Linked DNA regions of Homo sapiens. The protein of the gene in region 1 binds, or shares a complex with, the protein of each later gene. Each region holds a gene or a part of one and is shown in the gene's direction. Other genes may lie near its edges.

Region 1 (7,245 bases):
CTTTGATGTTAGCAGTCTGATTGCTCGCCATTTTCTCAGAACTAATGTCAGCTTACAACATCTGACACACAATCTAGAAACAGGACCCCATTTCAAACTCATATAAATTCCTTTCTTCATTCTTGGTTGGTATGAGAAAAATATGCAATGCGTATGGAAGAAAACATAAACTCTAAGTGAGTCTCATTATAGGAATTCCTCTGATCATGGGCATGACAATTTGCAAATCTGAGTAGGTGTTATGTTCCTCACCAACCTGGCAAACCAATTAAGTGGGAAGCTCATCTTCTGAAACATTGCATAGTTTTGATTTTATCACAGACATCATATAATATTTTTTCTATTTCAAGGATCTACAGAAAGTATACCCCTTCAATTGAGAGGGATCTGTTCTCAACGAATACACTTATTATCCATTTCAAATAAATCTCTCTATATTACCTAAAGATCTTAAAAGGCCAGGTTATCTTACATACATTACACAAGATACTATAAATTATCCTGGATATATTCTGAATGTATCCTGGATATAACCTGAAAATTACTTATAAATTGCTAGTGAAGTTCAAGTGAATAAGCTCTCTGGAGAACTTTACAGTTTACTCATTAAATAAAAACAGGTTAATTGAATGACTTTAATGTCATTAGATATTCTTAGGCACCCACAGTGAGATGCTGCACATATAAAGACATTATTCTGTCCCACAGCTTGCAATCTAAAATTAGATAAACACAGGCAAGCCAGATAAACATAGACAGCACATTTTTTAAGACAAAAAAAAATGATAGGAGAGAAAAATGAGAGTAGTGAATCAAAAAGGCAAAAGGAATCAACAAATATTTCATCTTCTGCCTTTTATTCGTAGCCTTAATTACCTCTATCACAAGCAATCAGACTGCTAACATCAAAAAGGGGTCTCAGAACATTAGTGGGATTACCACCATACAGCGTCCTCAGCTTTGGAGGTCCAGAAACTCCTGTTGTCCAGGAGTCCTTGCTTGTCCCTGCTTGCCTGATTTGGGGTACTAAAAGTCCACTACTTCCAGCACTAGAAATGAGAGCCCAACCAGCATGTCAGGAAGCGCTCCCCGAAACAGCTTGTGGAGCTGAGAGGTAACATGCTGCAGCAGGCCAAGCAGTCTGGAGGTGAACACGGCCCTAGGTGCCCATGTGACCATCAGGTTGAGACCTCCCAACTAACCCTCATCCTATATGGTCAGTCTACAAGGCCTAGCTGGCCCTCTCCCTGAAGTTAGGTTTAAAAAGAAAAAATACACCCTCAGTGTGCCAGGCTTCACGGTAGATGGTTGGGATGCAGATAAACATGACATAAGCCTTCTTTTGGCGCTTACAACTTATTTTGGGAGATCGCTCATAAACACACTATTTTGATATAACGTAGTAAATGTAGTGGCAGGGTTGGCGGGGGGCAGGGGAAAAACCAAAGGAAGGGTGCCCAATCCTACCTGGTGGTCAGGGAATGGTAAGTTACTGGCGGAGAGGAGGAAGAATCTGAGAGGCAGAACCAGGAAAGTGTAGCCCAGACGCCAAGAGAGTGTGTGACAAAAGAGAGGGAGGAAAACAGTGTCAAACTCTGCAGATGTCCAGTAAAATGGACCTGAAGAAAGTCCATTGGATTTGTCAAATAGAACAGGGATCATTGGCAACTGTTGATGGGGCAATTTGAGTGCAGCTGGAAGTCATACGGTAGTGTTGAGGAACTAAGGAGAGAGAAAGCAGAAATGAAAAGCTTGGCTATGAAAAAAAAGTGAATGAGAGAGGAATATGTCATTAAGAGAAGATTGGTTTGTTTTCTTTTTGATCTGAATTGACCAGTTTCTGATCTGAGCGAAAGCAGCTGGCTGGAAATAAAAAGAGGTGATTGATGGATCAAGGGAACAGGTTCTTGGTTTCAGTTCCAGATCCCACTCCTGTTTCCTCCTGGGCTCTGACTCTCTCTCCTATTCTATTAAATAGCAGCTCCTTGTCCTCAGGTATGGACTTTGCTTCTACTTTCCCTTGCACATACTCAACTGTACCTCCATAAAATATGACAATGACATCTACTAAGTGCAAGAGCCACAGCTGCATAGACGTCCTGATGACTGGCTCCCTTCCCAAACTATGTATTCACCTACAAAGCACTAATATACTTTTCTAGTGATGAGAATGCTTCCATTTACCATCCAGGGCATCACTGCCTGTCAAGCTGCCCTGGAAGCCTAACAACTGTTTATTTTTTATTTATTTGAGTCTCGTTCTGTCACCAGGCTGGAGTGCAGTGACGCAATCCTGGCTCACTGCAACCTCCGCCTCCCGGGTTCAAGCGATTCTCCTGCCTCAGGCTCCCGAGTAGCTGGGACTATAGGCGCGCGCCACCACGCCCAGCTAATTTTTGTATTTTTAGTAGAGACGGGGTTTCACCATGTTGGCCAGGATGGTCTCGATCTCTTGACCTCGTGATCTGCCCCCCTTGGCTTCTCAAAGTGCTGGGATTACAGGCGTGAGCCACCGCGCCTGGCTACTTTTTGTATTTTTAGTAGAGACGGGGTTTCACCATGTTGGCCAGGCTGGTCTCGAACTCCTGACCTCAAGTGATCAGCGTGCGTCAGCCTCCCAAAGTGCTGGAATTACAGGAGTGAGCCACCGCGCCCGGTCACATTTTATCCTCTTTTTAATAGGAGCAAAATAGTATTTATGTGGGATTCCACTGGTTTAAATTCTAATTAAATGAGACAAGATATAAAGTACTTAATTCCACACCTAGCAATACAGTTGACATCCATTAAAGTTTATTGAATTAAGGAATAAATTGGGCAATCATTTAACTTCTTTGAGACTGTTCCTGTAACAGTAAAGTAAAATTATTACTACTTGCTCCACCTCCCACACCAGATTGCTCTCAGGAACAAATGATAGTATGTTTACGCGAGTGCTTTAAAAACTGTAAAAGCACTTTACTACTTTCGAGTGGAATTTGTATGTTGATTTAATGTCATTCCTAGAGCCGGTTTTTATTACTATCAATTCGTTAAATTTAGCATTCCTATTAAAACCCACTACTAATGTGCAGAATTGTTTTAGTTATTTATAAGGACGTTGTTTTAGACTATTCCTAATTTTGTCTGGTTGCAGGGCTGTGGTGCCATATAGTAGTGATTGTGACAAACCCGTACTTTCAGGAAAAACATTCACTTTTCTCCACTCCTGGTTTCTATCGCCAAGAAATGTCTGGCAGAAGCAGCACAAATCAATGATTCCAGCCTAGCACCTTAAGGTAAGAAGTGACCAAAGACCCCCAACACAGCTATCCCAAATTAAAGCCACTTTGACCAACGACAACGTCCAGTGAAGACACGGAGGAGGGTCGGGCTGGAAAAGAAGAGGACGAGGAACCCGAGGGGCCCTCCCCTCTCTCTCCCTGCCCCCCAACCCCGCGCCGGGAGCTCCAGCGGTGCCGGGGTCCAGCGCGCAGGACGGTTGGGGGGTCCCGGAGCGGGCGGCCAGGACCCGCGCAGCCAGTTGGTGTCAGCGAGCGCCGCGGCCGTTGGGGACTCCAGCTCCCAGCAGGCACCGCTTCTGCGGCCGACGCGCGTGGCGGCGGTGCCGGCTGGGACTCGTAGTGCGGTCCGGGTAGGAGAGAGCAGGGGGCCACGCTGGCTCCATCTACGCACGTTTCGGAAACCGGGCCCGGAGGGGACCACGCCCGCTCACCCGTGCCCGGCGTCCCCCGGAGCTGGGGCTAGAGGAGCCGGGCCGGCCGCAGCGGGAAGAGGCCACAGGCGGCCGCGCACGTGGGGGGTGGTTAGCGCGGAGGAACCCGGAAGCCCTTTGCACCGCCCACCGCCGCGGTGACGGGTTAACGCTCCTCCTGGTGGAGGCAGGGGCGGGCGGGGCGGAAGGCGGGGACGCCTCAGCCAACACCCCCGAGGACCGCCCGCGAGCCGTCCTCCCCACCCCCACGGACGCGACGCAGCGCGGGCTCCGCTTCCCCGGCCGCGGCGCCTGCGCAAAAGCCCCGCCCCTTCGCCCGAGCCCCACCCCCACACCGCAGCCTCCACCGCCGCCACCTCTCCCTTCCTCTCTGCTCTTTCCTCCTGTTTTCTCTTCCCTCCTCCCCCTGGCCTCCGCGTCTCCTCCTACTCCGGCGCTGACGCTCGCGTAGGGGCCCTGGCGTCAGACGCGCGGGGGCGGGGCGAGTGCGGCGCGGGGTATAAGTAGAGGGTGCAGGAGGCGGTGCTTCCCCTTCTCCCCGGCGGTTAGTGCTGAGAGTGCGGAGTGTGTGCTCCGGGCTCGGAACACACATTTATTATTAAAAAATCCAAAAAAAATCTAAAAAAATCTTTTAAAAAACCCCAAAAAAATTTACAAAAAATCCGCGTCTCCCCCGCCGGAGACTTTTATTTTTTTTCTTCCTCTTTTATAAAATAACCCGGTGAAGCAGCCGAGACCGACCCGCCCGCCCGCGGCCCCGCAGCAGCTCCAAGAAGGAACCAAGAGACCGAGGCCTTCCCGCTGCCCGGACCCGACACCGCCACCCTCGCTCCCCGCCGGCAGCCGGCAGCCAGCGGCAGTGGATCGACCCCGTTCTGCGGCCGTTGAGTAGTTTTCAATTCCGGTTGATTTTTGTCCCTCTGCGCTTGCTCCCCGCTCCCCTCCCCCCGGCTCCGGCCCCCAGCCCCGGCACTCGCTCTCCTCCTCTCACGGAAAGGTCGCGGCCTGTGGCCCTGCGGGCAGCCGTGCCGAGATGAACCCCAGTGCCCCCAGCTACCCCATGGCCTCGCTCTACGTGGGGGACCTCCACCCCGACGTGACCGAGGCGATGCTCTACGAGAAGTTCAGCCCGGCCGGGCCCATCCTCTCCATCCGGGTCTGCAGGGACATGATCACCCGCCGCTCCTTGGGCTACGCGTATGTGAACTTCCAGCAGCCGGCGGACGGTGAGCGCCGGGCTCCGCGGTCGGCCGGGCGGGCGGGCGGCCATGAGGCTCGGGCGGCGGCGGCGGGCGGGGTAGGCCGGCGGGCCCGGGGAGGGGGGCGGGAGGGCATGTCACCCCGCGACGGCCGGCGGGAAGGCGCCGGGGTCCCTGGAGCCGCGTTTCCCGAGCCGGCGGGGACCCGCGCTGCCGGCAGCCACACGCCCGGCTACTTCCTCCTTTGCGACCATTTTCTCGGCCTCAGACGCTCTCAAACTTTAGGGTGATGACGCGCCGGGAGGGTGGGTGAGATTCGGTTCCTCCGCGGCGCTCCCGCCAGTGGCCCCGGGATTCTGGGGCGTTGAACGCTGAGCTCCTTCCGTGGGTAAGAGGTGGAGGCGCTCCCACCACCCGGAGCTCCTGCCGGCGCCCCAGCCTGGGGAGGAAGTGCAGTTCTGTGCTCGAAAAATACCACGTGTTGAACCCTGTAACCTCGCAGGCCCGAGGCCTGCTTCTGCTCCTGCTCCTGGCCCAGTCGCCTGGGGGAGCCACCAGGCCTTAGGATAAAGTTCCTGTGGCGATGTGTGGTGTGGTGGTGGTCCTCAGGCTTGTGAGTCCACTTCCCAGAACTCATCAGTGACTGATGGATCTAGGAATGGAATTTACCGGAGACATGCATTTGGGGTTTCCCCTAGATCAAGCATTTCTCTAACATTAAAAGGGCAGAGTGGGAGGAGGGGATGTGGCAGCCGACCACTTTGAAGGCCAGTTTTCTCAGGCAACTTAGACCATTTTTAGTCAAATTTTATCTTAGATTCACAGTACTGGTGGTTTTCGAGTATATTATGTTACCTTCTGAAATAGTTCCTGTCGTTTTGAGGGGCTTTTCTTTATAAAATAGTCAACTTTGGCTATAAAATGTTACTTTAGTGTAATTCCAACTGGACCAGTCTTATCTGTAGCATGCAAGAAGTTCAAGTTTCTCTTTTATTTTTAAAAGTGGCCCATGATACCTGTAAATCTTGGGAAATGACTGAGTACAAAATAACGGAGATTAAATTGAGCTTGAAATTTATGGGGGAAATGCAGCTAACTTTGTGCTTTTATTTTGAAGCTAAACAGTTAACAGAAACACAATTTTGTAAACAGATAATATCTGTGGTCTGTTGAGTTGCTAGGATTTGTCTTTAGATCAATTGGCTTTGAGAAGTCAGCTTAATTCCATTTTACGGCCCAATTTTGCCTTTTTCCCCCCCTACAGGCTGGCCACTTGAATACATGTCAAATAATCGAAATATGAAGAATTCATTTTTATTAGAAAAGGCCTTAAGGGTGGAATTTAAGCTCCTATTAACATTCATTCAGTAGAACTTAGGTTACTGATCAGCTCTTCACTGTGTAAAGTTGATACTGATTTTGGAAGCAGAATATTGAGTGACACAGAGCCAGAAGTTGTAAAACTGCACTGCAGGTTTCCTGCCCTTTTGCTCTGTAAGCAGTAACTCCAAATGTCACTTCATAACAGTTCTTGTCAACCTTAGGCAGGATGTATCAATGCATGTCAGATGGGGGTAGATAACTTTGGGGCAGGTTATCACAACCTAAGAGTTGGTGGAGAAAACATGGGAATGAATTCTAGAGACCACAAAATGAAAACTTGAAAGTGTTACTCTTTCTCAGCTTAACGTTTTTAAATCCAAAAAACAATTTTTACATTTCTTGGGATTCGAAGAGTTGAACTTCAGGTTGCCGTGGTTACAGTGTACAGTATATATTATCAGTCTGTACCAGTAGACCAGTACCCTAACTACTGAAAAGAATATGGCAGTTTTCCATTTGTCTAGTTTCTGTATGTACAATTTACTATCCAATTAATTACTTAAGTGGATTTCTTGTTCTTTTTTAAAAACTTATTGCTACATTGATAGGCAGAATAGCTTCTGAAAGTGACCAGTTTTCAATTTCATAGGAAGAGGTGACTCATTGAAAAATAGCTCAAGCAAAGTCAGCTAAAAAAAAAAAAAAACTAGGGAAGCTGAGTAGGTGTGGTCAATTGATAATGAGCTAACAGCTGATTATCACTATATTCTAGAAACTGGAACTTTCATTTATAAAAAAAGAGGTGGCCGGAAAATTCATCCTGTCAATAACTTTTAAATTTACATTGGCATGGAATTTGTAGGAATTGTTTCAGGGCTTAAAAGGGACCGTTTTCCCTCTCTTCGGGGACTAGTCTTTTTATTTAAGGATGTGTTATTTCATTTAGAGCCTTTAATGGTACAGGTATACATAATTCAATCCTTTATAGATCCTGAAATTAATTGTAGA
Region 2 (7,775 bases), on another chromosome or scaffold:
TGTCAAATTGGAGCTTGTTATATCCACAGTCGGTGTCAGGTGAAATTGTCATTTGAAGTCAAAGCTACCCTAAATACAGTCAAATATCATGAAAGTGATTTCTAAAATAAACAAAAATGTACTTGGTCACAGAAAGTTTAAAAAGAAAATTGCAGTCTGTAAACTTCAGATTCACTACCTACCTCTCTGGCTCGATGGAGCTGTGCGCGCTCAATCCTAGAGATGATATCCTTTACTGAGAATGGGATCTCAAGGTTAGGGAGCATCAAAGGACTAAGGATATTTTGGGGCTCTCTTCTCATGATGGTGGAATCCTTGATGCATTTTTCTGATTCAGGGTCATTGTCTATCTCATTTTTCATTTTGAAGAACATTTTGAAAATGTGGGTGATTTCGTTTTATTTCTTCTTTTTCACAGAATCTACAAAAATGCTAATAAAGATATCCAGTAGGAAGCTAGGAGAGGTCTTTCCTGATCCTAGAAGTTGTGGCATACTCTGCTACTAATTGGTGGCTCCCATGATATTCCCGTCCTGTTGATGTCACAATAGACCCATTGTGACATTATCATTGATCAAACATGTAAAGAATGCTTACTATGTGCAGAGAACTGGTCATTCTATATGCTGCCATGGTAGAAGGGTGAGGGGGGAAGGAGGGTAGGAAATAATAGACAACAGGAATGCTAAAATAAACAGAAGATATAGCCCTGCTTAAATAAGCTTAAAATCTAGATGTGTTGGCCGGGTGCAGTGGCTCATGCCTGTAATCCCAGCACTTTGGGAGGCCGAGGCAGGTGGATCACCAGAGGTCGGAGTTCGAGACCAGCCTGACCAACATGGAGAAACCCCGTCTCTACTAAAAAAAAAAAAATACAAAATTAGCCATGTGAGGTGGCACATGCGTGTAGTCCCAGCTACTTGGGAGGCTGAGGCAGGAGAATCACTTGAACCCGGGAGGCGGAGGTTGTGGTGAGCCGAGATCACGTCATTGCACTCCAGCCTGGGCAACAAGAGTGAAACTGTCTCAAAAAAAAAAAAAAAAAAATCTAGGTGTGTCAAATATAACTCCTGGTTCTTCTCTCTTCCTGGGGTTTTGCTTAAGTATTTTTAAGCCTGTAATGGAATAAAGGTTACAACTACTTCCTCAGCTGCCCCTTAACTTTTCCTAGACATGTAGTAACTTGGATGATATCATTTGGATGAAGTAACTTGGATGATATCATTTGGATGAGGATCACACTCTTTGCACTGCTTACTCTTTTTTCTTTTCTTTTCTTTTCTTTCCCTTTTTTTTGGAGACAGAGTCTCACTTTGTTACCCAGGCTGGAGTGCAGTGGTGTGATCTTGGTTCATGGCAACCTCTGCCTCCCAGGTTCAAGAGATTCTTGTGCCTCAGCCTCCCTGAGTAGCTGGAATTACAGGTGCGCGCCACCACGCCTGGCTAATTTTTGTTTAATATTTGCTTCCAATTTTTTTAATAATAAAAAAGCATTACAGAAGGTTGAAGTCCTCTTTGATGTCCCCCACCCCTGGTTCCTTCCTTCCCCACTGTCCCATTCCAGAGGAAATGACAATCATGAATTTTACATATTTGTGTTATCTATTTTTACATAGTTTTACTACAGGTGTATGTATTGTTTTTTCTTTCTTTCTTTCTTTCTCCTTCCTTCCTTCCTTCCTTCCTTCCTTCCTTCCTTCCTTCCTTCCTTCCTTTCTTTCTTTCTTTTTTTTTTTTTGAGGCAGAGTCTCACTCTGTTGTCCAGGCTGGAGTGTAGTAGTGCCATCTCAGCAGACTGTAACCTCTGCCTCCCAGGTTCAAACGATTCTTCTACCTCAGCCTCCCGAGTAGCTGGGATTACAGGCATGCGCCACCACACCTGGCTAATTTTTTTTTTTTTTTTTTTTGAGACGGAATCTCGCCTGTGGCCCAGGCTGGAGTGCAGTGGCATGATCTCGGCTCACTGCAAGCTCCGCCTCCCAGGTTTGCTCCATTCTCCTGCCTCAGCCTCCCGAGTAGCTGGGACTACAGGCGCCCGCCACCACACCCGGCTAGTTTTTTGTATTTTTTAGTAGAGACGGGGTTTCACCATGTTAGCCAGGATGGTCTCGATCTCCTGACCTCGTGATCTGCATGCCTTGGCCTCCCAAAGTGCTGAGATTACAGGTGTGAGCCACTGCACTCGGCCTACACCTGGCTAATTTTTTATATTTTTGGTAGATATAGGGTTTCACTGTGTTGGCCAGGCTGGTCTCAAACTCCTCAAGTGATTCACTCACCTCGGCCTCCCAAAGTTTAGTTGTCAACTAAACTAAATTTGCATTATTCTTTCTCTCTCACTTGCATCTTTTATGCAGCATGGAATTCATCAATCAGCAACTAGACATGAAGGCTTTTCTTTGAGACAAAATCTCACTCTGTCACCCAGGCTGGAGTGCAGAGGCACGATCTAGGCTCACTGCAAGCTCCGCCTCCCAGGTTCACGCCATTCTCCTGCCTCAGCCTCCCAAGTAGCTGGGACTACAGGCGCCCACCACCACGCCCGGCTAATTTTTTGTATTTTTAGTAGAGAAAGAGTTTCACCGTGTTTGCCAGGACAGTCTCGATCTCCTGACCTCGTGGCCTCCCAAAGTGCTGGGATTACAGCCATGAGCCACCACGCCTGGCCATGAAGGCTTCTTAAAGTCAATTTTTAAATCCTGCTTCCCTTTCAATTCGACAAGCATTTGTTGAAACACTATGCAGCTTACATTATCCTAAACTGAAGAATATATGATAGGGTTCCTGTGAAGAAACTAAAACAAAAAAGAAAAGATTTAAGATAGAATATAATAATCAAGTGCTAATAAGGGACACGAAGAAGAGATCTGTAGAAGCAGAATCTTTGAGAAAACCTTATGGAGAGAGAAGGTTGATTGACAAATGGAGGCAATCCAGGTAGGGGCAACACCTTGAGCCATGGCTTTGGCGGTGAGTGCTAATGAGTTTGCATCTTAGGGGGAAAGTAAGGAGATTGGTTTAATCACTGAGATGACTTCACGGGAATTTACTGAGGACCACATTAGGGTGGGCCTGAGATAACAGATATCAGCAATTTGGTGGTGGAATTAATTTGGTATCTGAGGAGATTCCATTTGCGGCAAAGCAAGGAGGATTTCATGAGATCAGAATGGCAAAGTCTTGAAATCAAGTAACAGTGGTTTGGTGAAAATGAAACCTTCACTTTGGGAAGATTTTTTAAATAATAGAATGGAAAAATCCATTGGAAAAGATCAAGACATGATTATTTCATTTTTATTTATTATTATTATTTTTTAGAGACAGAGTCACACTCTGTCACCCAGGCTTGAGTGCAGTGGCGTGATCTTGGCTCACTGCAACCTCTGCCTCCCAGGTTCTAGCAATTCTCCTGCCTCAGCCTCCCACGTAGCTGGGACTACAGGCACACACTGCCATGCCTGGCTAATTTTTTGTATTTTACTAGAGATGGCATTTCACCATGTTGCCCAGGCTGGTCTTGAACTCCTGAGCTAAGGCAATCCACCCGCCTCGGCCTCCCAAAGTGCTAGAATTACAGGCGTGAGCCACGGTGTCCGGCCAATTTTTATTCGTTACTATTATTATTACTATATTTGAGACAGAGTCTCACTCTGTCACCCAGGCTGGAGTGCAGTGGCGCGATGTTGGCTCACTATTAACTCCACCTCCTGGGTTTAAGCGATTCGCCTGCCTCAGCCTCCCGAGTAGCTGGGATTACAGGTGTGCACCACCACACTTGGCTAATTTTTGTATTTTTAGTAGAGATGGGGTTTTACCATGTTGGCCAGGCTGGTCTTGAACTCCCGACCGCAAGTGATCCGCCCGCCTCAGCTTTCCAAATTGCTGGGATTATAGGCGTGAGCCACCCTTCCCAGCCAAGACATGATTATTTCAAAAGATGAGTGTTTGAACTAGGACATACAAGTGGGAGCGATCTATCCTACTACATATTGCTAAAGACAATAAGGAATTTGGACCATCTAACAAAAATTATAGATAATTTTAAAAATTTTGTTTTTATTGTATTTCGTTTGAATTAATGACAGAACGTCAAAGAAGACACTGTCCAGATTAAGTGTTATTACTGGTATATTAAGCGGTGACATGGGTAATTAATTCAAATGAGCCTGGGGCAAAGTTCTTTAAAGGGAAACCCGACCTCCTAGAGGGCTTCTTCAACTGTAAAATGGGGATGATAATAATAGTGTTTATTGCATAGAATTGTTTTAAGATCAATTAACATAAAATGCTTAGTATAGTGCCAAACACAATGTAAGCATTTAATATACATTAGCTGCTATTAACATATTTGCTAGTATCATAGTTTTTTGTTTTTTTTTTCTTGTCTACTTTTCTTCTGTGAGCCACCACTTTTCGGCAGGGTTGGTTTGTTCAGTACACTTCGCCAAGGTCGGCTTTAAAAATCAAATCTAGATTGTGAACTATGAAAACTGCGGAATTATCAGTGCTGTGTAGCTATCTGACAAGTGATAAAATGTGTCATTACGATTTTTACACATCCCCGTGCCACAGAATGGCGTCTCCTTCTAATCGTTCCCCCCGACAGATGATAGTACATCCCACACTGCTGCTGGAAAAGATAGTGCAAAAGTTGAGCGCGCCGAGGGCTCTCTTTTCTCCCGGAAACAATTTTTCCCTAGACCCGGAAGCAGTTGTTGTTTCAAGGGAGGTGGGACTGGGCGGGTCAGGCCGCAGCGGCTGACGGCAGGGGAGGAGCCGGGTCCACTGCCGGGTGGAGGGGCAAGGCGAGTGTGTGTCCTTATCCTAGCAATTGGGGCGCGGGCCTGTGAGCCAGTTGGAGTTGCGGCGGCGGGAACGATTGGGCTGAGCAGAGGACGACATGTTGCTTTTCGTGGAGGTGAGTGCATTATGCTAGTCTCGTCCTGCTCTTAGGAGAGCAGGAGTGTAGAGGCGCCGGCCGGTCCCACCGCCATGTGACTTTCCGGGCCGTACACGCCGCGGAACCGGCAGATAGGCTGACACAGCACCTGGGCCGAGCAGGCCTGCAGCTTCCCTCTGCGCGCTCACAACACTCTAGGAAGCTATGGGAGGTGAGGCCCGTAGTGGAGAAGAATTGAAGGAGAAAAACGGAGGGCTGTTCTGGTGTGGCGGTGAGGTTCAGAGGAAGGGGAAAGTGTCCCATATGGACCTCCTAAAGGAGGCAGCATTGGGGGGTTGGGGGGCGGAGTCTGAGGGAGGAGAGGGTAATCAGGTGGGCGCGTTCCGGGGGCCGAGCGCGGCCTCGCGGGGCCCCTCTGGGAGGGAGGCGAGCAACATGTGGGGCCACGGATGGAGAAAGGTGAAATGCGGTAAGTATTTTGAAAAGAAAATTGAAAAGTTCTTTTGAGCAACTTCCACCAAATTCTGCCCGGGCCCCGTCCCTAGGTCTCTGGAACGTTCTGTGGGTGAAAGCGAGTTACTTTGAATCGAGGAGAAGCCAGTAGGGTTTGGAAGCCTTGAAAGGCACCGCTTTGACCTTTTGTAAAAGTTACTCAAGCAGCAGCTGCGTGATGAAGGGTTGGTTCTATGAACCGATTAAAAGCCCTTTACAAGGAAAATTCCAAGAATGAGGGAAACTTATTCCGGGAAAAGCCGTTTTTTGTAATGTTATTTGAACAATGAGACACTTTTATTACTTAAACTAGAACGTCTGCTGTTGGCCTATTTTAGTTTTCAAGATAGAGTTGGATACCTGCCTTACAGAAATACGAAATTTAATTTCCCTTAATTCTGTCCTCTTGTGTGCAGTGAGCGTCAGCTGACTGCCTGGCTAATGCTTTGAGTAGATTCCAGATCATATTGTTCTTACATTGTGAAAACGTCAAACCAGCAAAGCTGCAACTTCGCAACTTGGCATTTGTTAACTATGCCCATAAGAAGAATCTTTTCAATGAGGGAAGGAATTTACGGGTTGTATAATGAATCTAGGAGCCGGGGCCAGCCTATGGCAGATTTTTTTTTCCGGGTTGTGGGAAAATCTTACTCCGTAATATTCCAGCATAAAGTAAATAAATGATTTTACGGTTTTTTTTTCTCTTTAAACTAACTGATATTGTGTCGCCGATAAGCTTGATATCTTTAAATTAGTTTTTTAAAAGACTGCTACATTAGAGTGTATCTAACATTCATAATAAACATTCATTGGAACATTCCGGGGAAATCATGAAAAGACTTAAAATTACTGAACTCATTCTGTTTACTGTTTTCTGTCCTCATTGTTGTTTTCCTTAGGCAGAATAAGAAATCAGATAAGATTTTAAGCCAGTGCCAGCCAGTTTTTTTAAGGAATGTTATGCTATGTAAATACCACAGGTTTTAAGTGTGTGTTTTGCTGGGCAGAAGAAAGATTGTGAAGTTTATATTGACAGGAACTCCACAATATACTTTTGACTTCCAAATTGATTCCTTTGGCTTTATTAAAATGTAAGTTTTAATAACAGCTCCATTTATTGTTTAAACTAGGTCTTCTCCTGTCTCTAAAGCGATACTTAATATGTTTTACAGATGACAAAACCGAGCCCCAGAGGTTAAAGTAACTTTACTTAGTAAAAGTAAAGTAGTTTAACTGGGATTTAGATCCAGGTCATGCTGATGTCAAATCATGGACGGGATGTTAGCAATTCAGGCCTGTCCGACTCCCCAGGTTAGACAAATTCTATCGTATCTCTCGCCAAACTAGTGTTTAAAAGTTGTATCTCCATTAATCATTTTCTTTGTGAGTCACTATGTCATTCTTCATTTTCTCATATGAGTTTTATTGAAAATTAACTGTCTTTAAATATTTGGGGCTGAATATGTGGTATTAAAATCAGTGAAAAACAACATGTTGGTCGTTTGGCGTTTTGTTAACTAATATTTGATCCCTGTAACCTCATGATAGAGGAATTATTCTCAGTGAGAGAACCAAAGCTCAGAAGTTAGATGTCTAAGGTCATTCAAGTGTAAATAATGTGGGGGCTAAAGTCTGAAGTCTGACTTCTAGAACATAAATTTCTGGCTTCAAAATTATTTTTGTACTTTCCCATAAGTCAAAGGTTCTTAATCTAGGTTTTTGGATAGAATTGAGGAAGTAAGTACCTAAGCTTGGTTGAGGAAAAAAATTTGCGTGTTTATTTTCTCTAGCTTCTAACTGAAATCTAAATGGAAAAGAAGTGAAAATTCTTTAAATGTTAATGGCAGCAACAGTGTATGTGACCTTGTCACCAAGACAAATCACTTTTTTACATGTATTACAGCTTTTGCAGTTATCTTGAAATATTTATGCTCATTACTTGCTATATGTCAAAAATATTGTTAACGTATTGCTATATTAGACATTTTAAAATATTTTGATAACTGCGTTTCAATATAATTGGTTTACTTTGTGATCCTATATATTTTAGAAATGTAAAAAAACGGAGAAGAGATCCATAGATTAATTGGACTACTAAAGAGGTCTGTGTCACAGAAGAGGTTAAGAACTGCTTTACTAAACCAACTTGCTTGTGGATCATCTTTGGCAGGGTTAATCTGGGATCCCTGGGTCCTCTGCAGTTGTGTTCAATACCTTTTACTTATGTGTATTTTTCTGGAGAGATTCCAGCTTAACTATCCCACTAGAATCAGTAGGATAGATAATAGCAATATAACAATAACAACAGTAGTAGTATATACTTGTATCGTGCTTTGTGTCAGGAACGTTTGATGTTTTTGCATATATAGATATCTGTACATCT
Region 3 (7,196 bases), on another chromosome or scaffold:
TGGGAGGCCAAGGCGGGCAGATCACCTGAGGTTGGGAATTCGAGACTAGCCTGACCAACACGGAGAAACCCCATCTCTACTAAAACTACAAAAAAAAAAAAAAAAAATTAGCCGGGCATGGTGGCACATGCCTGTAATACCAGCTACTCGGGAGGCTTAGGCAGGAGAATCACTTGAACCCAGGAGGCGGAGTTGCTGTGAGCTGAGATCACGCCATTGCATTCCAGCCTGGGCAACAAGAGCGAAACTCCATCTCAGAAAAAAAAAAGGAAGAACATTCTTTTTTTTTTTTTTTTTTTTTTTTTTTTTGAGACAGTGTCTCACTCTGTCGCCCAGACTGCAGTGCAGTGGTGTGATCTCGGCTCACTGCCACCTCTGCCTCCCAGCCTCCAGCGATTCTCCTGCCTCAGCTTCCCAAGTAGCTGGGATTACAGGCGCCTGCCACCATGCCCGGCTAATTTTTGTAGTTTTAGTAGAGATGGGGTTTCACCATGTTGGCCAGGCTGGTCTTGAACTCCTGACCTCAGGTGATCCGCCCGCCTCGACCTCCCAAAGTGCTGGGATTACAGGTGTGAGCCACCGTGCCCAGCCTGTTCTTCCTTTTTAAGGCTGAATCATATTGTGTTGTATGGATACACCAAGTTTTGTTGATCCATTCAATTGTTGATGGACACTTGGGTTGTTTCCACCTTTTGGCTGTTGTGCAGAACCGTGCCATGACCATGGGTATGCAAATTTCTTTTGGAGTCTCTGCTTTCACTTCTAGTTTCCTTTTGAAGCCTTATACTGCTTTGTCGTTGGCTGAAATGGTAAGGCAGCAGCTGACCTGTCTCTAGCTTTCCCCATTACCTTGCTGAGTGTCTGATATGCAACTTTGTAACACCCTTTCAGGTGGGATCGATTATTTTCTTTTTACGAACAAGGACACTGAGGCTGATAATGGGCCTAGGGTCACCCAGCTTGGGAGGGACAGGACTGTGGGTGGAACCCCCAGCCTGCTGTCAACTGAGTGGCTTTAGTTCTAGCAAATTCATCTCTCTTTAACTAGGATCAGGGTCAGGAGCCTCCAAGGCAGAGGAGGAGGTAGACTTTTGAGGAATGTTTTGCCCATGGGCAAATGGGAGGGGAGGAGGAGATAATACTATTTATTTTTTATTTATTTATTTTTTTGAGACCAAGTCTCACTTTGTTCCCCAGGCTGGAGAGGAGTGGCAGGATCTCAGCTCACTGCAACCTTCACCTCCTGGGTTCAGGTGATTCTCCTGCCTCAGCCTCCCGAGTAGCTGGGATTACAGGCGTGCACCACCACACCTAATTTTTGTATTTTTCTGAGAGGGTTTCACCATGTTGGCCAGGCTGGTCTCGAACTCCTGACCTGAGGTGATCCACCCACCTCGGTCTCCCAAAGTGCTGGGATTACAGGCGTGAGCCACTGGGCCCAACAGAGGAGATAATATGAATGGTTGTGTTCACTTAGCAAAGAAGAGCTTACGATGTGCCATTTGCTTTATCAGTTTTACTCTTTTAAGCCTCATAGCAGCCCTAGGAAGTGGTGGGTACTAGCATTCTGCCCGTTTTGCAGAAGGGGAAACTGAGGTATAGAGGGGTGAAGCCACACAACTGAGGTTACACTGCTATAAAGTGAAGGAACTGGTGTTTGAATCCATGCTCTCTGGTCCCCAGTTTAGCAGAGAGGAAGGCAGGAGAAGGGAAGACCAGGACAGGTGGGTGTGGGTGGGGGCGGGATGAGAGGAGACCTGCTGGGCTGGCAGAGTCTCAGGCTCAGAACATGGAGAAACCCTAGATCCTGAAACCCCAAATCACCCACTTCTGTGTTTCTTCTTACATGGACAAAGAAAACGATGCCAGAAGAAGACCCGGCCACCTTGGATGATCACTCAGGCACCACTGCCACCCCCAGCAACTCCAGGACCCGGAAGAGGCCCACTTCCACGTCCTCCTCGCCTGAGACCCCCGAATTCAGCACTTTCCGGGCCTGCCAGTGAGGCTGAGGACTGGGGGACCCCTCTGTCTCCAGGCATTCGGGGGCCTGAGGTCCCTCCAGCTACTTCTGGGGGGGCTCTGTCAGCCACTTTCTCAGGGAATTGGACAGAGGAAAGGAAGGGGAACCCTGGCCTTGGGATTTTCATCACAGAGGAGTGGGAGAGGGGACACAGGCATGGGCCTGGCACTATACAGACAACAGGAAGTTCCCCTCTCGACCTTCGGCTCCTCAGGACCACCAGAGAAGGAGATGTCAGGACCCCTTCTTGTCCCCCAGCTGGGCCATAAGACGTCCCAGGTCTCTGCACACCCGTGGAATTCCTCCCTTCCCCAGTGGGTTTTTGAGCATAGGGTGCCCTTGGGTGTGTTGTGTGTCTGCCTGCTGGCTTGCTTAAGTTATTAATTATAACACGGGTCAAGGTGTTCCCAGGCCTCTATGGAGTGGAATCCTTCAAGCTGGGGACCTCTGGATCCCATGGTTGGATGGCTGGGGGGTGGAGCGTGTCTGAATTCACCAAATTTGAAGCATCTCTCAAGGGCAGTCAGGGTGGTGTATGCGGAGCCTCCTGGGGGTGTGGGGAGTGCAGCAGTGCCATGCCAGGGTCTCTGCAACGGTACTTGCATTAGAGGGTTTAGGAGGTGGAATGACAGGGGCTACGGGTGAGGGACATGAAGGAGAATGAGGGCCCCTCGCAGTGGCTCACACCTATAATCCCAGCACTTTGGGAGGCCGAGGCAGGGGGTTGCTTGAGCCCAGGAGGTTGAGGCTGCAGTAAGCTATGATGGCACCACTGCACTCTAGCCTGGGCAACACAGTGAGACCCTGTCTCAAAAAACAAAAGGGGCCGGGCGCGGTGGCTCATGCCTGTAGGCCCAGCACTTTGGGATGCCGAGGCGGGCGGATCACCTGAAGTCAGGAGTTCAAGACCAGCCTGACCAACATGGTGAAACCTCGTCTCTACTAAAAATAAAAAATTAGCTGGGCGTGGTAGAGCATGCCTGTAGTCCCAGCTACTCGGGAGGCTGAGGCAGGAGAATCACTTGAACCCGGGAGGCGGAGGTTGCGGTGAGCTGAGATCGAGCCATTGCACTCCAGCCTGGGAGACAGAGCGAGACTCCGTCTCAAAGAAAAAAAAAAAAAAAAAAAAGGAATGAGGCGTAAATGAGGTCTAGGGAAGAGTTAAAGCTGGAGTGCTAGGAAGTGGCCCAAGCTCACTGGGTCGCCCAAAAGAGATGGGGCCACCCAAAATGAAGGGGGATGCAGAGAGAAGACGGGTTTGTGTGGCGGGAGAGGGGCCCTGCGCCGGGCCAGGCTGGACTCAGCATCGTTGGAGGAGGGGCTGAGAGAGGAGGGGGTCAAAGGATATCTTGTGCGAAAGGAGACAGTCAAACATTAAGGATTAAGAAGGCAATGTGGGCAGAGATGATGGGGAAGGGAGGAGGAGCGGTCGAATGTCGGGGAGGGGTCCTTTCAACCGGGCTCAGGTTGCTCCTGGAGGCCAGGGCTCATCGGAAATCGTCGGTGCGGGGGCGGTGGGGGGAAGGGTTGGGGGCGAGGCCCGGGCGCTGGCCACGCCCTTTCCCCCGCCCATTCCCCAGAGCGGGGCGGCTGACAAAGCGAGTCCGGGTGGGAGGGCGCGGGCAGGCACGGGGGCGGGGCCTCGTCGCGGCTGGGCCACGCCTCCCTGAGGGCTGCCTCACAAAGCCGGGCGGGCCCGGGGGGGTGGGGCCCAGTCTCAGGGGCGTGTCCAGGTCGGGGCAGGGAAGCCGCATCACGACGCGCGGCTGCTTGTGTGGGGCGGGGTACAGGGCGTGTCCACGCGGCCGAGCACCGCCCCCGCCGTCCCCGCACCGCCTCACTCGAAAGCAGCCGTTAATGAGGCGCCGGCCTGGGGGCGGGGCCCAGGCCTCCGAGGGGCGTGCCCGCGCGCCCGAGCACCGCCCCCGACGTACCCTCCCGCCCCGCAGTTCCCGGGCGGTGGAGCCACCTCACAAAGCGGCGACCGTTCTCGCGGGGCGGGGCGTAGCCGGTCCCGCCCCACGGGGTGCCCTCTCGTTCGCTCGCTAGCTCCCCGCGCCCAGGACGGCCGGCAGAGGGCGCTGCGCCACGGGGCCGGGCCGCGGCGACGGTGGCGGCGGCGGCGGCGAGGCGGCGCGTGGCCGGCAGGCGGCGCTGCCCGGCTCGGCCTCGGCCTGCACGGCGGCTGCGGCGGCGGTAGCGGCAGCGGCGGCGGCGGCGGCGGCGGCGGCGGCGGCGGCGGCGGCGGCGGCGGCAGCGGCGGCGGCCTGGGCCCGGGCGCAGCGGCGGCGGCGGCGGGGCCTGGAGCCGGATCTAAGATGGCAGCGGCGGCGGCGGCGGTGGGGCCGGGCGCGGGCGGCGCGGGGTCGGCGGTCCCGGGCGGCGCGGGGCCCTGCGCTACCGTGTCGGTGTTCCCCGGCGCCCGCCTCCTCACCATCGGCGACGCGAACGGCGAGATCCAGCGGCACGCGGAGCAGCAGGCGCTGCGCCTCGAGGTGCGCGCCGGCCCGGACTCGGCGGGCATCGCCCTCTACAGCCGTGAGTACGGGGCCCCGGGGCAGGCGCAGGGCCGGGGCTGCTCACGAGGCCGGCCCGGGGCGGGGGCCGGCGGGGAGGGGCCCTGAGCGCGGGGGCCTGGCGTGGGGTCCCCGGGACTGAGCCGGTGGCCTGCAGGGAGCGACCGTGGAGGGCCGGTGCCAGGGGACAGACAGAGAAAAGAGGGCGTGCGTGGTGGCCGGAGGGGCAAGGTGCCCAGAGTGAGCAAGGGAGCGCGAAATGGGGAGTGAAGGGCCTGAGATTTGGGAGGGGTGGGTGAGCAGGAAGTGGGGGGCTCTGAGTGGAAGGGGAATTTGGAGGACGCCAGGCGTGGTGGGCTTAAGCGTGGGGGAGGGAGGTCCGGGGTGCGGGAGAGGTGGGCGTCTCGGGGGCGGGCGTGGCCGCCTCTGCAGGGAGGAGGGTGGGGCGTGGGCGGCCCGGGATCCCTCTGGGGACCCCCTGGATAGCTCAGGACGGTTGGAAAGTGTTTGCTGGTCTGGGGCGCCCGCGAGTACCGAGTTCCACCGCTGTGCGAGGTGTGGCGTTCAGGACCCCCGAATGGGAAACTTCAGGATCTGGGGAGAGGGCCCATGCGGGGACGGTGGGAGCCGCAGGGTGAGCTCCTCGTGGAAACGTGGACGGGACGGGCCCCTTCCTGATGCCGGGCTTCGAAGTAAGAGCTAACAGCCTCCTCCCATCTTCTTTTGGGGGATGTGAGAAGCTGGTTACATTTTCCGAAGCTGCTTTCAAAACTGACATTTCACTGGGGGGAAAAGAAAATCACAAATGCGTTTGCCAGCACCCCCCACCCCCGCTCCCAGTCTTTGTAGTTCATTCTTCTTCTTGTTACTCCTTCTTATCTCTTCTCTTTGATTCCTTGTTCACATTTTGCTACTCTGTGTCATTTGGCTTTGTCTTTCAGGGCTTCTTGCACTGATGCCCTGGGGAACCCCTCAGGAGGCCTCTAGCTAGCTTGGGTCCTGTGTGAATTTTTTGCCACTTTGGAAACGGCCCGATTAAAGGAAAGCCCGAGGAGCAGTCCGTTCACACTGGGTTTTCCCTGCACCTCGACTTTGAAAACGTGGACTAAAGGAGTTGTGTCTGCTGTCCGAGGGTGCCGTCTCTTTTTGCTGGTGCAGAGCCTGGGTCTTCTTGGACCAGATGAGAGGGGAAGGAGGGTATTTCAGCGGGGGTTTCAGAGTTCAAGGCAGACACTCAGCTCAACAGAACCCCAGATCATAAGCAAAACCTATTCACTGGGCAAGCATTGGTAGCCAACTTTGTCCTGAACAGAACAAAGCGGGGCAGCGTTTCCAAAACTAGGGTCCCAGGGCTTATCCTCAAAGGAGTTCCAGGAGAGTTGGCTATCATTTTTAAGTAAACCTTTAAAAAATTTTTTTAGGACCAGGCGGGGTAGCTCAGCACTTTGGGAGGCTAAGCACTTTGGGAGGATCACTTGAGGTCAGGAGTTCGAGACCAGCCTGGCCAACATGGTGAAACCCCGTCTCTACTAAAAATACAAAACAGCGGGGTGTGGTGACATGTGCCTGTCCCAGCTACTCGGGAGGCAGAGGCAGGAGAATCACTTGAACCTGGGAGGCAGAGGTTGCAATGAGCTGAGATCGTGCCATTGCACTCCAGCCGGGGAGACAGAGTGAGACTCCATCTCAAAAAAAAAATTTTTTTTAGAACAATTTTAGTTTAGTTTTTTTTTTTTTTTTTTTTTTTTTTTTTTTTTGAGACAGAGTCTTGCTCGGTCCCCCAGGCTGAAGTGCAGTGGCTCAATCTCGGCTCACTGCAAGCTCTGCCACCTGGGTTCACGCCATTCTCCTGCCTCAGCCTCCCGAGTAGCTGGGACTACAGGCGCCTGCCGCCATGCCCGGCTAATTTTTTGTGTTTTTAGTAGAGACGGGGTTTCACCATGTTAGCCAGGATGGTCTTGATCTCCTGACCTCGTGATCCACCCGCCTTGGCCTCCCAAAGTGCTGGGATTACAGGCATGAGCCACCCCGCCCGGCCAGAACAATTTTAGTCTTATAGATGTATTGGCAACATAGTGAGATGTTCCTACCATCTTATTCCTGGAGTAACATTTTGTGTTTGTATTTGTGTTTTTGTTTTTGTTTTGTTGATACTCTTGAAAGTATTACTTGTTATTAAGACAGCACTTCTCTTTGAGAGGTAATTGGTAACTGAAACATTTTTTATTATTAGAGACAAGGTTTCACTATGTCACTGTGTTGCCCAGGCTGGTCTCCAACTTCTGAGCTCAAGTGATCTTCCTGCCTCCCAGAATGCTGGGATTACAGGTGTGAGCCACCCCACCTGACCGGAAACATTCATAAAAAGGAGAAAGTCCACATTCCTCAGAGAGCCTCAGTCCCAGATTCCCAGATGATATATCCTTAGGGTTCTGAAATAATTTTTTTTTACACTTTTTTGTTTTTTTTCTTTCTTTTTTATTTTTTTTATTTTTATTTTTTATTTTTTCAGACAGGGCCTCACTCTGTTGCTCAGACTGGAGTGCAGTGGTACAGTCTCAGTCTCAGCTCACTGCAGCCTTCCATGGCTAAAGTGATCCTCATACCTCAGCCTCCCTAGTAGCTGGGACCACAGGCATGTGCCACACCCAGCTAAT
Region 4 (7,019 bases), on another chromosome or scaffold:
AGAGTCAATTACTGAACAAGAGGTAATTTATTTTTTCTTTGTTAAAAATTGTTTACAAAGTCAACCTAAACTGGCTGCGTGGAAACCATTCAGTACCCATAGCTTTTCCCTTTGTCTTGAAAAGGAAAACTGTCAAAACCAGTTTTGTGAAGCAAGTTACTTTCCCAGAGTTTTCTCACCTTATCAATAAAGATTACAAATACTTAATAACAAAATGATAAACTTTTACAGTCCATTTAAAAAATCTATGTTAGTAACAATATCTGACACTGTAGTTCACTTATGAAGGCAGTGACAGGATTATTGTGCCTAGTTTAGTTACCTTGTAGGAACTATGACTGACAATAAGCTCCAAGAAGAGGATTTCTTCTTTTTCTCCTCTGTGTGAAGCAAATGGGTCAAGTCAGGGGCAAAGAGAGCAAGGAAAAATCAGTTATTTGAAGCTGTCAGTCTCATTGGAAATAGAAAACAAGTCCGGTGCTTTCTATATTGTGGTTTTAATGGGGGAATTTTTTCCTCACATTAGTACTTCTCTGATACGTATAATGGAAATTACAAGAATAATGGACTTAAAAACAATTCATTTTATTTTCAGTTGGAGGTTGTGTGTGTGTGTGTGTGTGTGTGTGTGTGTGTGTATTTAAAGATCCTTTTCAAAGTTGTAGTATTAAAAAAAAAATTACAGAGACAATTTGGGTAAAATCAGTGCTTTCTTAGTAAAAAACCTATAAGACAAGGTGAGGCTCTCTCTCCCCTCTTTGGGCTGCCAGTATGCTGTGAATCAGATTACACCTATGTTGCTTAAACATATTAAATTTGATAAAAATCGTTGAAAATAAAACTATCAGTTTTTTCAAACTGGGAGACTTAGTATGAAAAGATGGTGTATATTCTAGCCTCTTCAATAGTCAGGAACAGTTTCTTTATTGTAGAAAGAGCATTGGGACATTGTCCTTGCCTCTTGCTGTGGACAACCAAACTGACAAATGGTTATTTTGTTTGACTATTTAAAAAGCAAAGCAATGTGAGATTATAAAAGATATGTCTTTAATTAGATGTCGGACTGAATATGAAGTTAAAGATCAAGCTGCAAAAGGGGATGAAGTTACTCGAAAACGATTTCATGCATTTGTACTCTTTCTGGGAGAACTTTATCTTAACCTGGAGGTGAGAAGTTTTTCTTTTGTTAAGTACTAACAAGGCCTGAGAACATAAGTTGATCTCAATGAGGAATTTGTGTTCACATTGTACTTTTACAACATTAAGAGTGAAATGAAAGAGAGAGGAAAGAAAACATGTTTCGGCACCTGCTAGTGTCTGTGGTTTACTGGACCGTCTGTCCATAACATTTACTCATGGACAGAATGTTAGGAAATAATTACTGAGGTAAAAATCTGCGTACTTTTAGGAAGCTGTGGTTTACATGCAAATTTAAGTTCTTGAGATATCAACAGTGATACCTTTTTGAGTTCTTACATCTTATATATTAATACATTTAGTATGTTGACTTTCAGATGGTGGCTCAAAGCAGTTTACTCTGCAGAACTCTGAGTGAAAAGAGAGACTAGAGTCTCTCTAGGCTTTTCACTCTAATTCACCCAAATAGTTTTTTAAAAATATTTTTTTAATTGACAAAAATTATATCTTTATGGTACACAACACTTTGATATATGCATACATCGTAGAATGGCTAAATCAAGCTATTTAACATATGCATTACTTGACATACTTTTTTGTGTTAAGAACACTTAAAATTTTTAGCAGTTTTCATGTATACAATATATTGTTAACTATAGTCATCATGGTGTACAAGAGATCTCTTGAACTTATTCCCCCTAAATGAAATTCTGTGTCCTTTGACCAACATCTCCCCAATACCCCAACCCCTAAGAATAGTTCTTTTTTGTCCTATTTTATATATTAATCTTCCACATAAAAATGCATTTGTACAAAGTCTACAGCTAAACGTATTTATAAATTTGGGTGGTATACTTAAGTATATGCTTGTTAGTAGGCAATAGAAGTGCTGGATTCAGCACGGCATTATTACTGTGTAATAGATTTGCTTGATTTTTTTTTTTTTTTTTTTTTTTTGGGTGGGGACAGTCTCGCTCTGTCACCCAGGCTGGAGTGCAGTGACGTGATCTCGGCTCACTACAACCTCCGCCTCCCGGGTTCAAGCGATTCTCCTGCTTCAGCCTTCTGAGCAGCTGGGATTACAGGCACGTACCACTATGCCTGGCTAATGTTTATATTTTTAGCAGAGATGGGGTTTCACCATGTTGGCCACGCTGGTCTCAAACTCCTGACCTCAGGTGCTACCCGCCTCAGCCTCCCAGAGTGCTGGGATTACAGGCATGAGCCACCATGCCCAGCCTCTGCTTGATTTTTTAAATTAGTGAATATCAGATATAAGCTTATACCTTCTTACACCCTGATTTGAGAACTTAAGATCGTAAACGCCATAATATCAGAAACATCATAAGACAATGTGAATCTATCAAATGTGCATCTCAGTCATTGTATCTAAAAGGTCTATGTCCAGTCCAGAGCCTAACTTACTATGCCTTTTTACCACAGGTAGACTTAGTTTTTTGAAAAATCTTATGCCATGTTCTTTTTCAGTCTAATTTTTGTTTAAGCCAAAATATGGACAGCAATCTAAAATAAATACTGTTGAGCATTTTCTATATGGAGATAATGATGCTAGGTCAATGGGGGATGTAAAGATAAGGCTTAGTTCCTGCACCTAAAATTCTTCTACACAGTGATATAAGATACATATACCACTCTGATGCAAAATACCATATTTTAAAATATTTTAAAAGCAGAATAAAATGCTGTGTGTTCAAAAAAAAGTGGTAGTTGAACAAACTAAAGAAAGCTTTATGAAGTAGTAACATCAAAGTGGGCTTAAATTATGCTGACTCTGGTATTAAATTTTACCCATAGCTTACCAGTTTTATTAGAGGTCTTAGTTACATATAAAGTAATTCTAACAAATTCTGTGAAGATATCAGAGTGTGTTCCTGTGACTTTTGTGATTTAGCTAAAATGCTTATTTTGCCAACACCTTGTTAGTTCATTTATGTATCTGTATTATATTTTGGCATCATTCCTTTTGTTCTTTTTTTTGGTCCCGAAAGATCAAGGGAACAAATGGACAGGTTACAAGAGCAGATATTCTTCAGGTTGGTCTTCGAGAATTGCTGAATGCCCTGTTTTCTAATCCTATGGATGACAATTTAATTTGTGCAGTAAAATTGTTAAAGGTAGGTTTTTTTTTTTAATTTAACTAATTTACGTATTTACTTATGATTTAGAGGAAGGTTAGTCTATATAGTATACAGATGAATTCAAGATTTATCACTTTAAGGTAAATATTGACATTTTACTTTTTTCTCGAATATTTTGGAAAAGCGAGATATACTTATTGTTTAATATATGAAGCAAGTTCAGAAGTGAAAAATGGAAGTCCTTTACGCCATTTCCATTTGCAAATTCTGTCTTCTTCCCTTCTTATCTCTGTATATGTGCTCTTATTAAATAAGATCTTACTCTGTTCTGGCTTTTTGTTTTTGTTTTTGCCACCTAATGAAACATCTTAGATTTTTCCATGGCACAGAGATTTACCTCTTTTATTGAATAACTTCCTAGTATTCTGTCATATGCATATGCATTGTTTATCCATTCCGTAACATCTATCAATGTTTACTAATGAATATTTGGATTATCTTCAGTTTAGCCATGGCAGCATTGCTTGTAATCTTTCCTCTTGTCATATATATGTGCAGATACTTTTGTAGGTTAAATTCTTAAACACGGATTTGGTGGGTGGACGAGCATATGTATTTTACGACAAGTAATGGCTAATTTGCCTTCCAAATGCTGAACCAGAGTATAGCCCCATCAGCAGAATGAGTACATCTCTTCCTACATCCTTATAGTGATGGATATAATCAATCTTGGTTTTTGTTTTGTCAGATGATTTTAAGCATTTCTTCATGTTTATTAGCCATTTGTTTATTATTTCCTATAAATTACCTGTTTAAATCCTTAACTGATTTATTTCCTGATGAAATGCATGTTTGTGTTTTTTTTTTTTATTCAAAGCTTCTATACTTGTTGCTTGCTGTATATTTCAAAAAAAGTGACATGTTCATTAAAATCTAATAGCCTATCTTAGTCATACAGGGAATATAACAGTCGTTGACATAAAACCCATGATTAAAGTTCTGCTATTGTTTTTTTTGTTTTAGTTTCTCTCAGTCAAGAGAAATATAGAGGGCGTAGAGATCACTGAATATTAGATGGTAGACAGAATAATTAGGAATATTAAACTTGCTAAATTCATCTTGTTTAGAGAATGCTTGAACTGTTACTGGTATCTTTTTAGAATTTCTATAATACACTATTGAATTTCTTATTTTACTGACACCTGCTTTTTTAGTTGACAGGATCAGTTTTGGAAGATGCTTGGAAGGAAAAAGGAAAGATGGATATGGAAGAAATTATTCAGAGAATTGAAAACGTTGTCCTAGATGCAAACTGCAGTAGGTAGGAAAAGAAGTAATGTAAATAGCCAGTGCATCTCAATTTCTTGCTTTTTCTTTGGAGATTGTTTTTTAATTTGCTATACTTCAGCAGGGTAAGTTGATGGCTAACGGATATACAAAAATGCTTTTCTTTAAAGGAATAATATTTTACCTATAGTTTCTGCTCACTAGACATTTTTGTGATAGACGTGTCAGATATTTTTGCTCAATTACATTTAGAAATTGAAAAAGCTAATTTTCTTAAGATATGAATTAAATGAAAAACAAAATCCAAATATTAACTGTCCAACAAATAAAAGTACTACTGTAAGTATAGTAGGACACATAAAAATGTTTGAAGGATAGCCACTGCCTTTAAGGTCCATATAGTCATAGTTACGTGGAACATAATTCAAGGCTATTTTTTTTTTAAATGAATTTATGTCATATAGGAAACGTCTAGAAAGTCAAGGCATCAGATGTACCTGTTAAATTAAGGAAATAAAGTTTTGGGAATCTGAGATATTTTAGGGTCTGACAGCCCTTATGGTGGATACACTAACTCATTTTCAACTTTGTCTACAGAGATGTAAAACAGATGCTCTTGAAGCTTGTAGAACTCCGGTCAAGTAACTGGGGCAGAGTCCATGCAACTTCAACATATAGAGAAGCAACACCAGAAAATGATCCTAACTACTTTATGGTATGCCAGTGTTTATATTTTAAGTTTTACTTATTGCTTGAATTCCGTTTTGGAAATTAGAAGAGCTACATAAAGCTGTTCTCAGAATTCAGTGCCTAATAACTGTCTTCACTGGCTTTGAGTGACATGGCAGCCATCAGACTGGGTAAAAAAGAAAAGAGACCTGGAATTCTCCAGTGAAAGGGTGGACTAGAGAAAGATATATCCAATGGCAAGAGAGATTGACAAGGCTTGGACTTAAGTGAGCACAGGGATGCCAGGAAGCAGCTTTTCCAGAGAATTTATAACCAAGGACCTGCATCTCAGACTTTTACTTTGCATGTTGTAGTAACGAAAAATAAAATAAAATTGGTTGGCTGGGCGTAGTGGCTCACACCTGTAATCCCAGCGCTTTGGGAGGCCAAGGTGGGCAGATCACCTGAGGTCAGGAGTTCAAGACCAGCCTGACCAACGTGGAGAAACCCCGTCTCTACTAAAACTACAAAGTCAGCTGGGCGTGGCAGTACTTGCCTGTAATCCCAGCTACTCGGGAGGCTGAGGCAGGAGAATTGCTTGAAGCCTGGAGGCAGAGGTTGTGGTGAGCTGAAATCACGCCATTGCACTCCAGCCCAGGCAACAAGAGCACAACTCTGTCTCAGGGAAAAAAAAAAAATGGCTACTAGGCCAGTGATGCCCTGAAGCTCCTGACATGAACAAACATAAAGCAGCTGTGGAGAAATGTTCCTCCAGCCCTGGTCCTGGAAATTCTTAAAAGAAATGGTGGGGTTGGAAACCACAGCTAAAAATGCACTGACACTAAATGACAATGCACAACAGAACAGTTCACTGAAAGACAATAGACAGCACCGTTAGAACCACAAGAACTTGAGATAATGGCATGGAAATCTGAAAACCATAGACTTTCTCAGTGAAGTGAAAATGGCTACCAGGAAGTTAGGTTCCTTTGCTTGTTCTTGCATTATTAGGTGCAGACGGGTGACATCAGCCATGCTTCATTATTGTACTTACAAAAATCAATTCTGAAATGATTACATATTTTTATCACTTTGATTCATCCTAGAATGAACCAACATTTTATACATCTGATGGTGTTCCTTTCACTGCAGCTGATCCAGGTATGTTGTCTCACAGTCATTCCCTCCTCCCAGTTGTTTGGTAAAGTAGTAAATTTACAGAAAACCACATCCTCACCAGCACAAGATTGTAACTTTTTGATGTCTTCACATCATTCTAAAATACCAGTGTAATGGTTTGTCTAATATAGAATGCTCTTCATAGTGACCACTTGAAACATTTCAAATGAAAGTATGATTCCACATATAATGTCTTGTCACTTAACAACAGAGGATGGGAAGAATTCTCAATTAAATGCAACTATTTTAATTTTATATTTCCTCTAACTTTTTTATAATCTTAAATTTTCAGGTGATTAGAATGGAGGGGAAAGACGATTCTAGTTCACTGCATAGTCAGCAACATATATTAATATGGGTTAATACTTTACACGAAGAATTACACATTTCATTCATACTTGGTGTGTGACAGTTAATTAAAATCCAAATCTCTGCACATTTCCTCTTCCAGAAGAGGACCATTTATAGAAAGATTGCCTTAATTGTATTAGATGGAACTGTAGAGTGAGGAAGAGAAATTTTTCCCTTTGGTACAAACTGCAACCAGCTTATGGTTGGAATTTTTCCATTTGTTTCCTCTGGATTCCAAGCATTGACTGTCCTGTGTCTCTAGCACAGAGAAGTTTTTTTAGGGCAAGGAAGTAGAAT

Evidence for each region.
Region 2: the proteins of PABPC1 (region 1) and LARP4 are in contact, whole or in part, in a crystal structure (PDB 3PKN), measured with the Homo sapiens proteins. Residues at the interface, in NP_001425211.1 of Homo sapiens: Gln560, Gly563, Glu564, Phe567, Pro568, Gly579, Lys580, Thr582, Gly583, Met584, Leu585, Leu586, Glu587, Lys606, Glu609, Ala610, Val613, Leu614, His617; in NP_443111.4 of Homo sapiens: Leu15, Asn16, Pro17, Asn18, Ala19, Lys20, Val21, Trp22, Glu24, Ile25.
Region 3: the proteins of PABPC1 (region 1) and CARM1 are in contact, whole or in part, in a crystal structure (PDB 5DX8), measured with the Homo sapiens proteins. Residues at the interface, in NP_001425211.1 of Homo sapiens: Gly452, Ala453, Ile454, Arg455, Pro456, Ala457, Ala458, Pro459; in NP_954592.1 of Homo sapiens: Gln148, Tyr149, Phe152, Tyr153, Asn161, Met162, Asp165, Glu257, Pro258, Met259, Gly260, Tyr261, Asn265, Glu266, Met268, Val340, Leu412, Thr413, His414, Trp415, Tyr416, Lys470, Pro472, Phe474, Tyr476.
Region 4: the proteins of PABPC1 (region 1) and PAIP1 are in contact, whole or in part, in an NMR structure (PDB 1JH4), measured with the Homo sapiens proteins. Residues at the interface, in NP_001425211.1 of Homo sapiens: Pro555, Gln556, Gln558, Lys559, Gln560, Met561, Gly563, Glu564, Gly579, Lys580, Thr582, Gly583, Met584, Leu585, Leu586, Glu587, Asn590, Leu593, Ser605, Lys606, Glu609, Ala610, Ala612, Val613, Leu614, His617, Gln618; in NP_006442.2 of Homo sapiens: Ser126, Lys127, Leu128, Ser129, Val130, Asn131, Ala132, Pro133, Glu134, Phe135, Tyr136, Pro137, Ser138, Gly139, Tyr140, Ser141, Ser142, Tyr144.

The regions. Positions count from the first base shown.
Region 1 is NC_000008.11:100,719,087-100,726,331, reverse strand, and holds the start of PABPC1 (polyadenylate-binding protein 1), read left to right. Parts: upstream 1-4,243; 5' UTR 4,244-4,748; coding exon 4,749-4,941; intron 4,942-7,245. UniProt on the Homo sapiens protein: Binds the poly(A) tail of mRNA, including that of its own transcript, and regulates processes of mRNA metabolism such as pre-mRNA splicing and mRNA stability.
Region 2 is NC_000012.12:50,396,111-50,403,885, forward strand, and holds the start of LARP4 (la-related protein 4), read left to right. Parts: upstream 1-4,774; 5' UTR 4,775-4,900; coding exon 4,901-4,918; intron 4,919-5,038; exon of another isoform or gene 5,039-5,171; intron 5,172-5,296; exon of another isoform or gene 5,297-5,369; intron 5,370-6,564; exon of another isoform or gene 6,565-6,661; coding exon of another isoform or gene 6,662-6,703; intron 6,704-7,775. Other genes in the region: protein FAM186A, read right to left, coding at 183-374. UniProt on the Homo sapiens protein: RNA binding protein that binds to the poly-A tract of mRNA molecules. Associates with the 40S ribosomal subunit and with polysomes. Plays a role in the regulation of mRNA translation.
Region 3 is NC_000019.10:10,867,362-10,874,557, forward strand, and holds the start of CARM1 (histone-arginine methyltransferase CARM1), read left to right. Parts: upstream 1-4,191; 5' UTR 4,192-4,341; coding exon 4,342-4,561; intron 4,562-5,067; exon of another isoform or gene 5,068-5,116; coding exon of another isoform or gene 5,117-5,231; intron 5,232-7,196. Other genes in the region: C19orf38 (protein HIDE1 precursor), read left to right, coding at 1,857-2,006. UniProt on the Homo sapiens protein: Methylates (mono- and asymmetric dimethylation) the guanidino nitrogens of arginyl residues in several proteins involved in DNA packaging, transcription regulation, pre-mRNA splicing, and mRNA stability.
Region 4 is NC_000005.10:43,533,072-43,540,090, reverse strand, and holds part of PAIP1 (polyadenylate-binding protein-interacting protein 1), read left to right. Parts: intron 1-1,055; coding exon 1,056-1,167; intron 1,168-3,146; coding exon 3,147-3,272; intron 3,273-4,450; coding exon 4,451-4,557; intron 4,558-5,120; coding exon 5,121-5,238; intron 5,239-6,298; coding exon 6,299-6,353; intron 6,354-7,019. UniProt on the Homo sapiens protein: Acts as a coactivator in the regulation of translation initiation of poly(A)-containing mRNAs. Its stimulatory activity on translation is mediated via its action on PABPC1. Competes with PAIP2 for binding to PABPC1.